2 linked regions of the Homo sapiens genome follow. The protein of the gene in region 1 purifies or fractionates together with the protein of each later gene. This does not show direct contact. Each region holds a gene or a part of one and is shown on either strand. Other genes may lie near its edges.

Region 1 (3,500 bases):
TGACCTCAAGCAATCCATCTGCCTCGGCCTCCCAAAGTGCTGGGATTACAGGCATGAGCCACTGCTCCTGGCCCTCATGTATAGCTTTGAAGGAAGAATGTTTCAGAATCCCAGGCCTGGAGGGTGGAGGGGACTTGATCTTCCAAAGGGGAGAAGAATGCTTGGGAGGCCGGATGGAAGGGAATAAAACATTGTGGCTCGTACACGGTGCAGTTAGGGAGGCCAGAGCCCCAGGCCACACAAGGTCTTGCAGGCCGTGGGAGGAGTGTATATGTTGTTCCAGGGACCTTGGACAGTCACGAGGGGGTTTTCAGCAGGAGGGTGATATGGTGTGACATGCCCTTGCTGCCCAGGTGGGACCCAAGCCCGTTTCAGACATCATCTGGCACCTAAGGCTGCAGCTCAGGAACATCTCCCACCTCCCTGCAGATGTCTGCAATGTTTCTTTTCTCCTTCCTCTGCTGTGGGCGCCCAGAGAGTGCCCTAGAGAGTCCTTCAGGTTTCTCAGGCTGCTTTTCCCTGGTCATTCTGTGTGTGCTGTGTAACATCCACCGTCTCCCCTGCCTCATCCCATTCTACCCCCAACCCCTGCCTGGGGCTCATGCCTGACTCTGCACTGGTGTGGCCTTTGATACTTAATAAACAGGGCACTGAAGGAGAAGCAGGAGCTGGACGTTTGCAAGATGTCAATTCAGGGAAACCCATGTTTATCAAGCTCCTGCTGTGTGCAAGGTCCAGGGTTGGCCCCTCTGAGGGTAGCTGTTGAGCTCCCCAGTGCCCCAGCACTGGGCTCTTGCCTTTGGTTGATTCTCGGGTGACAGTTTGCCATGGAGTGTCGGTTAGTGCTGGGCAGCATCTGACATCCTGCCCCTGTGCACTCTGCACTGGACAGTGCTCAGAACACGTGGATCCAGCAAGTGCTCAGAGGGCACCACTCTGTGATCTAGGTGCTGCAGGGATGGGATGGAGCAAAAGACCACATCCCTTTCCTGCTGGAGCTGGCATTTAGGTGGGAGAGTCAGACAATAAATGTAATAATTAAGTAATGAGATAATATGTTAGATGGTGCTGAGTGTCGTGAAGAAAGGAAGGGACAGCAGAAAAGGGGTGGGGAGAGCTGGTGAGAGGATGGCAGTTTTAAATCAGGAGTCAGGAAAGGGCTTACTACCTGTGATCACAGGTGACATGTGGGAAGGGAGTGAGGGAGTGGGTGATGTGGTCATCTGGGGAAGGGCATTCCAAGCAGAAGAAACAGCAAGTGCAAAGATCCCAGGGCAGAACTATCTGTCATGAGTTCCAGTATAGTGTGGAGAGAAGGAGACACAGACCATAGCTCCATGGAGCACCTGGAGGGACCCTGGAGAGTCTCTAGGGGAGTGAGCTCCTCTTGGTCTCCAACTCTCTCTTCTCTTCCCTGAGGGGCTCCTCTCTCCTTTAAAAAAAAATTTTTTTTAATTGTGGTAAAATTTACATAACAAAATTCGCCATTAACCACTTTAAACTGTACAGTTCAGTGGCCTTTAGTCCATTCACAAAGTGCTGCAACCATCATCTCTAGTTCCAAACATTTTCATCACTCCAAAAGGAAACCCTGTGTCCTTTAAACACTTGCTCCCCATTTATCCCCCCAAGTCCCCTTGGTAATCACTCACCTGCATTCTCTCTCTATGGATTTGCCTATCCTGGATATTTCATATAAATGGAATCATACAATATGTGACCTTTTGTGTCTGGCTTATCTCACTAAGCACAGCGTTTTCAACATTCATCTGTGTTGTGTTGTAGCATGTATCAGTACTTCATTCCTTTTCACAGCAGAATGATATTCCATTGTAAAACACTACATTTTTTTTATCCATTCATTAGTTTATAGGCCTTTTGGCTATTGTGAGTAGTGTTGCTGTGGACATGTGCATACGAGTATTTATTAGAATACCTGTTTTCAGTTATTTGGGGTATACACCTAGGAGTAGAATTACTGGGTCACATGGTAATTCTGTTTAATTTTCTGAAGAACCATCAAGGTGATCTCCACGGGGGCTGCACCATTTCCACCAGTAATGTACCAGGGTCCCAATTTCTCTACATCCTTTTCAATGCTTGTTATTTTCTGGTGTTTTTTTTTTTCCCCCCCAGTGTGGCCATCTTACTGGATGTGAAGTGGTATCTCATGGTTTTAATTTGCATTTACCTAATGGCTAATTAACACTGAGGATCTTTTCATGTGCTGATTGGCTATTTGTATATGTCATTTGGAGAAATGTTTATTCAAGTCCTTTGTCCATTTTTAAAATTGGCTTGTCTTTTTGTTGAGTTGTAGGGTTCTTTATATATTCTGGATATTATTTAATTTGTAAATAACTCCTCCCATTCTGTGGGTTGTCTTTTTTTTGATAGTGTCCTTTGATGCACAAAAATTTTAGTTTTGCTGAAGTCCAATTTATCTTTTTTTCCTTTTCTTTAGGTGTCATATCTAAGAATCCATTGCCAAACCCAAGGTCATGAAGGTTTACCGCATGTGTTTTCTTCTAAGAGTTTTATAGTTTTCACTTATATTTAGGCCTTGATAAATTTTGAGTTAATTTTTGTATATGTGTGAGGCAAGTCCAACTTCATTGTTTTGTACTCAGATATCCAGTTATCCCAGCACCATTTGTTAGGCTGTTTTTCCCCTGTTGAATGGTCTTGGTACCTTTGTAGAAAATCAACTGGCCATAGATGTATGGATTTATTTCTAGACTCTCAATTCTATTCATTTTTTTGGTTTGTTTGTTTAAGAAAGGGTTGCATTCTTTCGACAGCCCAGGCTGGAGTACGGTGGCTCCATCTTGGCTCACTGCAACCTCCGTCTCCTGGGTTCAAGCAATTCTCCCATCTCAGCCTCCCAGGTAGCTGGGACTACAGGCGTGTGCTACCATGCCTGGCTAATTTTTGTGTTTCTTGGTAGAGATGGGGTTTCACCATGTTGGCTAGGCTGGTCCTGAATTCGTGACCTCAAGTGATTTGCTCACCTCGGCCTCTCAAAGTACTGGGATTACAGGCATGTGTGAGCCACTGCGCCCAGCCAATTCTATTCATTTGATCTATATGTCAATACCACACTATTTTGGTACTGTTACTGTGGCTTACTGTGGTTATTGTGGCTTTGGAGCAAATTTTGAAATTCCAGATTGTGAGGCCTCCAACTTTGTTCTTTTTTTTTTTTTGAGACGCAGTCTCGCTTTGTCGCCTATGCTGGAGTGCAATGGCGCGATCTCGGCTCACTGCAACCTCCGCCTTCTGGTTTCAGGTGATTCTCCTGCCTCAGCCTCCCGAGTAGCTGGGATTACAGGCGCCCGGCACCACGCCTAGCTAATTTTTCTATTTTTAGTAGAGATGAGGTCTCACCATGTTGGTCAGGTTGGTCTCAAACTCCTGACCTCATGATCTGCCTGCCTCTGCCTCCCAAAGTGCTGGGATTACAGGCATGAGCCACCGTGCCCAGCCAACTTTGTTCTTTT
Region 2 (4,300 bases), on another chromosome or scaffold:
AATGACTAACAAACCGATTATTCAGACATGGCTATCTGACAAACATTTTCTCAAAACATGAGCCCGGTTGTGCCTATCAATAAAATGAGAGATTTCAAGTGAAAATTGAGATTTTGGAAAACTTATATTCTCTACTGTGAACCTAACAGCTTTCCAGTACTTACAGACTGATTAATCAGTGGTAATACTATGATTTTTTTGGTATTGTACAATAAAATGCTCCAACATTTGCAAGATCTGCAAACTCAGCTAATGAATACCTTCCAAATAATGCAAGATGTTACCAATCGTTCATGAGTAAAAGATCCAAAGTACAAAACAGAACAGAGTTTTAAGGTAAGAGCACCCCAAATTTAATCATATGGTTTAAGAATCCATTTGGCAACTTTTTTTTTTTTTTTTTTTTTTTTTTTTGAGATAAAGTCTCACTCTGTCACCCAGGCTAGAGTGTAGTGGCACAATCTCAGCTCACTGCAACCTCTGCCTCCCGGGTTCAAGTGATTCTCTGCCTCAGCCTCCTGAGTAGCTGGGATTACAGGCACCCACCACCATGCCTGGCTAATTTTTGTATTTTTAGTAGAGATGGGGTTTCACCATGTTGGCCAGGCTGGGCTCGAACTCCTGATCTCTTGATACACCTGCCTCGGCCTCCTAAAGTGCTGGGATTACAGGTGTGAGCCACTGTGCCCGGCCCGCAACTAACTTTTAAGAAGGGTTAGTTTATTACTTGTTGAGCTGTGTTATATTAAAGCACAACACCCTCAATGATCTAAAAATGCTATTAAGTACTCGTCTTAATCATGTATCTGTCAGAGGCTGTATTTTCTTCAAATACTTCAACCAAAACAAAATAGCACAAGAGATTAAAAGCAGAAACACCTATGACAATTCATCTGTCTTCTATTAATATTTTGCCAGACATTAAAGAGATCTGTAAATTGAAAACAATGCTACTCTTCCTTTTTTGGGGTAATACTTTTCACAAAAATCTTACTTATCCTTACATGTAATAGATTTTTTGTAAGTGAATTAATAAATTTTATTTTTAGTGTGATAAATATTGATAGGTATAACCTACTGAAACAAAAGCTCTTTGGAATCCTTAATCATTTCTAAGAGTCTAAAAGAGGTCCAATTCCCAAAGAGTTTGAGAACCACTATTCTAGAAGGCAAGAGAAAAGGAACTCCTGACTTCAACTTTCATCTACAAAGTTTAACCAGAAAACAAATATAAAAGGTCATGAAAACTTTAGACAAATAGAAGGTCACAAGAAAGACCAAGAAATCACGAAGATCATAAACCTGGAGGACATTATGTTACATGAAATAAGACAGGCACAGAGAGACAAACACCACATGATCTCACATATGTAATCTAAAAAAGTGGAAATCAGAAATCACAGAAGCAGAGAGTCGAGTAGTGGTTAGAAGGGACTGAGTGAGGTTGAGGGTAGTTGGGAAGATACTGGTCAAAGGGCACACATTTTAATTAGACAAGAGGAATTCTATTCTACAACACGGTGACTAAAATTAATAACAATGCATTGCATACTTGAAAATTAGTAAGAGTAGATAGTAAGTGTTCTCACCACAAAAAAAAGTAAGTACCTAAGGTAAAGCAAATGTTAATTAGCTCCATTTAGTCACTGTAGACACATTTCAAACATCATGTTGTACACTATAAGTATATACATTTTTTACTTCTCAATAAATTAATAAAAATCACTTTAATGACAATAAAAAATAATAGGAAGATTTTAGCTCTCAAGACTAACCAAAAACCGTATTCCTCATTAAGCTACAATTCCAACTCAGAGCAGCACATTTTATTTAAACAACTTTATGCTGCCTTACACCTGTATTTAAGAACTCAAAGGTACTTCAAAATGACGACACTATATCTAACACCATTACTGGTACCATCTACAGTGTCATGAATCTCTATCATGCTTCTTTGTGTTGTATATATTACTATTAGTTTTTGCAAATAACTGGTGAAAAAAGAAAATAAACAAAGGGGAATGTCCCAAAACCTAGATTCCTGTACTACTCTGGCTAAATGTTTTCAAGAAAGATAAGTTGGTCAAGTGTCTAAAAGGTACATATAACTTCTGCCCACTTAATAGTATTATAAATTATTGAACTTTGTTGTGACAGTTTAGGTTCTTCATAAACTTTGATAACTGTGTTAGTTATAACTGATGGAGTCAACTGATGGTGAAAACGAAGAGCCTCCCAACTGTACACGATTGTTTTATTTCCCCCAAGGAGTCCAAAAGGCAGATGCAGATAGCGGGCAAGTGCTCGAGCTATTTTCTCGCTCACTACCTTCTGGATAAGTCTTTCTGGATAAGACTCAGCATGGCTTGTGGTCGGCAGCAAGTTATAGAACCCCCAGAGAAGGATCCAGAGACCCCGCGGCCCCTTCCCGCCCTGTGCCGTCACCTCCCCGCTTCCCCGCGTCTCCCTGGACACCTGAGCCTTCGTCCGCGCGGGGAGCCGCTTTGGTGGCACGCCGGGAGCTCGCCCAGACCCGGCCCCGGCCACGAGGGCCCCGAACCCGGTGGGGCAGTCCCGCCACCTGCGCGCGGCCTCCTCCAGAGGGCGGCTCTTCCTCCGCAGAACCCGGGACCGGAAGTTCCCTCGGCGCCCCAGGCTCAGCAGGCGACTCCTCGGCGCCATCGCTGTCGCTGGAATCAGCCGCGCGCTGCCGAAAAGTCCTTTTCGGCCTGTGAGCCATGGCCGAGGCCCGAGCGCCCGGCGCCCTAGAACCCGCTGAACCGCAAGCCGCAGCTTCAGTGCCCGCCCCCTAGGGCGCGCTCCCGCCGCGCCTGGCCGCCGAGTGCGCGCGCCCGTCCCGCCTGCCTTCTGCTCACCGCTACTCTGTCTGCGCCTGCGTGCTTTGGCTCCCTGGATCTGGTAGGCCGAGTTCTGTTCTGGGGCCTGAGTTTGCAAAGCATTCCCTTTGCCAGGTTAGGTTGCGTGGACTGACACCTTAGAGATTTTCACGGCCTATCCGGTCTGAGTCCCACGGAGAGCAGAACTCACGTGCTGTCCTTGTGCAAACCCCATCCAGAAATCAAGCGTTATGCTTTCCGTCCTGGACTGGAGCCAGATCCGTTGTCTTTTACTTTCTGGAGAGAGTGCCCCCTCCAACCAAGATTTAAAACAAACGAAACCCCAGCAGTGTGAGGCTCGGGGTAGGAGGAGATGCCTTTGAGAACAAAACCATAAAGTCTGTACATAAACAATGCATACAGACTAGCAAAAATCAAATGACTTCCCCCAGGCAGCAGGGCTTCAAGAGAGCCTGGTTAAATGTTTTCACCCTTAAAGAAACTATCTAAAAACAAAAAGCTATTGTCTGACGCAAATTTGTTCTATATTCATCAAGCTCTGTCTACTACTGTATCTGTATGGTAGAAATACTATATAATGTTGAGCTACTGCACACCTGTTATCAACTCCATGTTTAGTGGCGTCATATTGAGAGGTGACAGCGGGCCAGCTGGAGTTCCGGGTGGGCATGGGCTTGGCGGGCCTGCACTCGGAGCAGCCGGCCGGCCCTGCCAGCCCCGGGCAGTGAGGGACTTGGCACCCGGGCCAGCGGCTACAGAGGGTGTACTGGGTCCCCTAGCAGTGCCGGCCCACCGGCGCTGTGCTCGATTTCTCGCCGGGCCTTAGCTGCCTTCCCGCGGTGCAGGGCTCGGGACCTGCAGCCCGCCATGCCTGAGCCTCCCATCCACTCCATGGGCTCCTGTGCTGCCCGAGCATCCCCGACGAGCACCACCCCCTGCTCCACGGCGCCCAGTCCCATCGACCACCCAAGGGCTGAGGAGTACGAGCGCACGGCGCCGGACTGGCAGGCAGCTCCACCTGCAGCCCCGGTGCGGGATCCACTAGGTGAAGCCAGTTGGGCTCCTGAGTCTGGTGGGGACATAGAGAGTCTTTATGTCTAGCTCAGGGATTGTAAATACACCAATCAGCACTCTGTATCTGGCTCAAGGTTTGTAAACACACCAATCAGCACCCTGTGTTTAGCTCAAGGTTTATGAGTGCACCAATCGACACTCTGTATCTAGCTGCTCTGGTGGGGCCTTGGAGAACCTTTATGTCTAGCTCAGGGATTGTAAAAACACCAATCGGCACTCTGTATCTAGCTCAAGGTTTGTAAACCCACCAATCAGCACCCTGTGTTTAGCTCAAGGTTTGTGAGTGCACCAATAGACATTCTATCTAGCTGCTCTGGTGAGGCCTTGGAGAACCTGTGTGTGGAAACTCTGTATCTAACTAATCTGAT

The links. The genes of interacting proteins can lie anywhere in the genome.
Region 2: the proteins of HDAC11 (region 1) and GCFC2 purify together in Homo sapiens (co-immunoprecipitation; 4 studies listed by BioGRID and IntAct, with this or other methods). This does not show direct contact.

Annotation. Positions count from the first base shown.
Region 1 is NC_000003.12:13,486,806-13,490,305, forward strand, and holds part of HDAC11 (histone deacetylase 11), read left to right. Parts: intron 1-3,500. UniProt on the Homo sapiens protein: Responsible for the deacetylation of lysine residues on the N-terminal part of the core histones (H2A, H2B, H3 and H4).
Region 2 is NC_000002.12:75,708,116-75,712,415, forward strand, and holds the start of GCFC2 (intron Large complex component GCFC2), read right to left. Parts: upstream 2,801-4,300; 5' UTR 2,741-2,800; coding exon 2,476-2,740; exon of another isoform or gene 2,329-2,475; intron 1-2,328.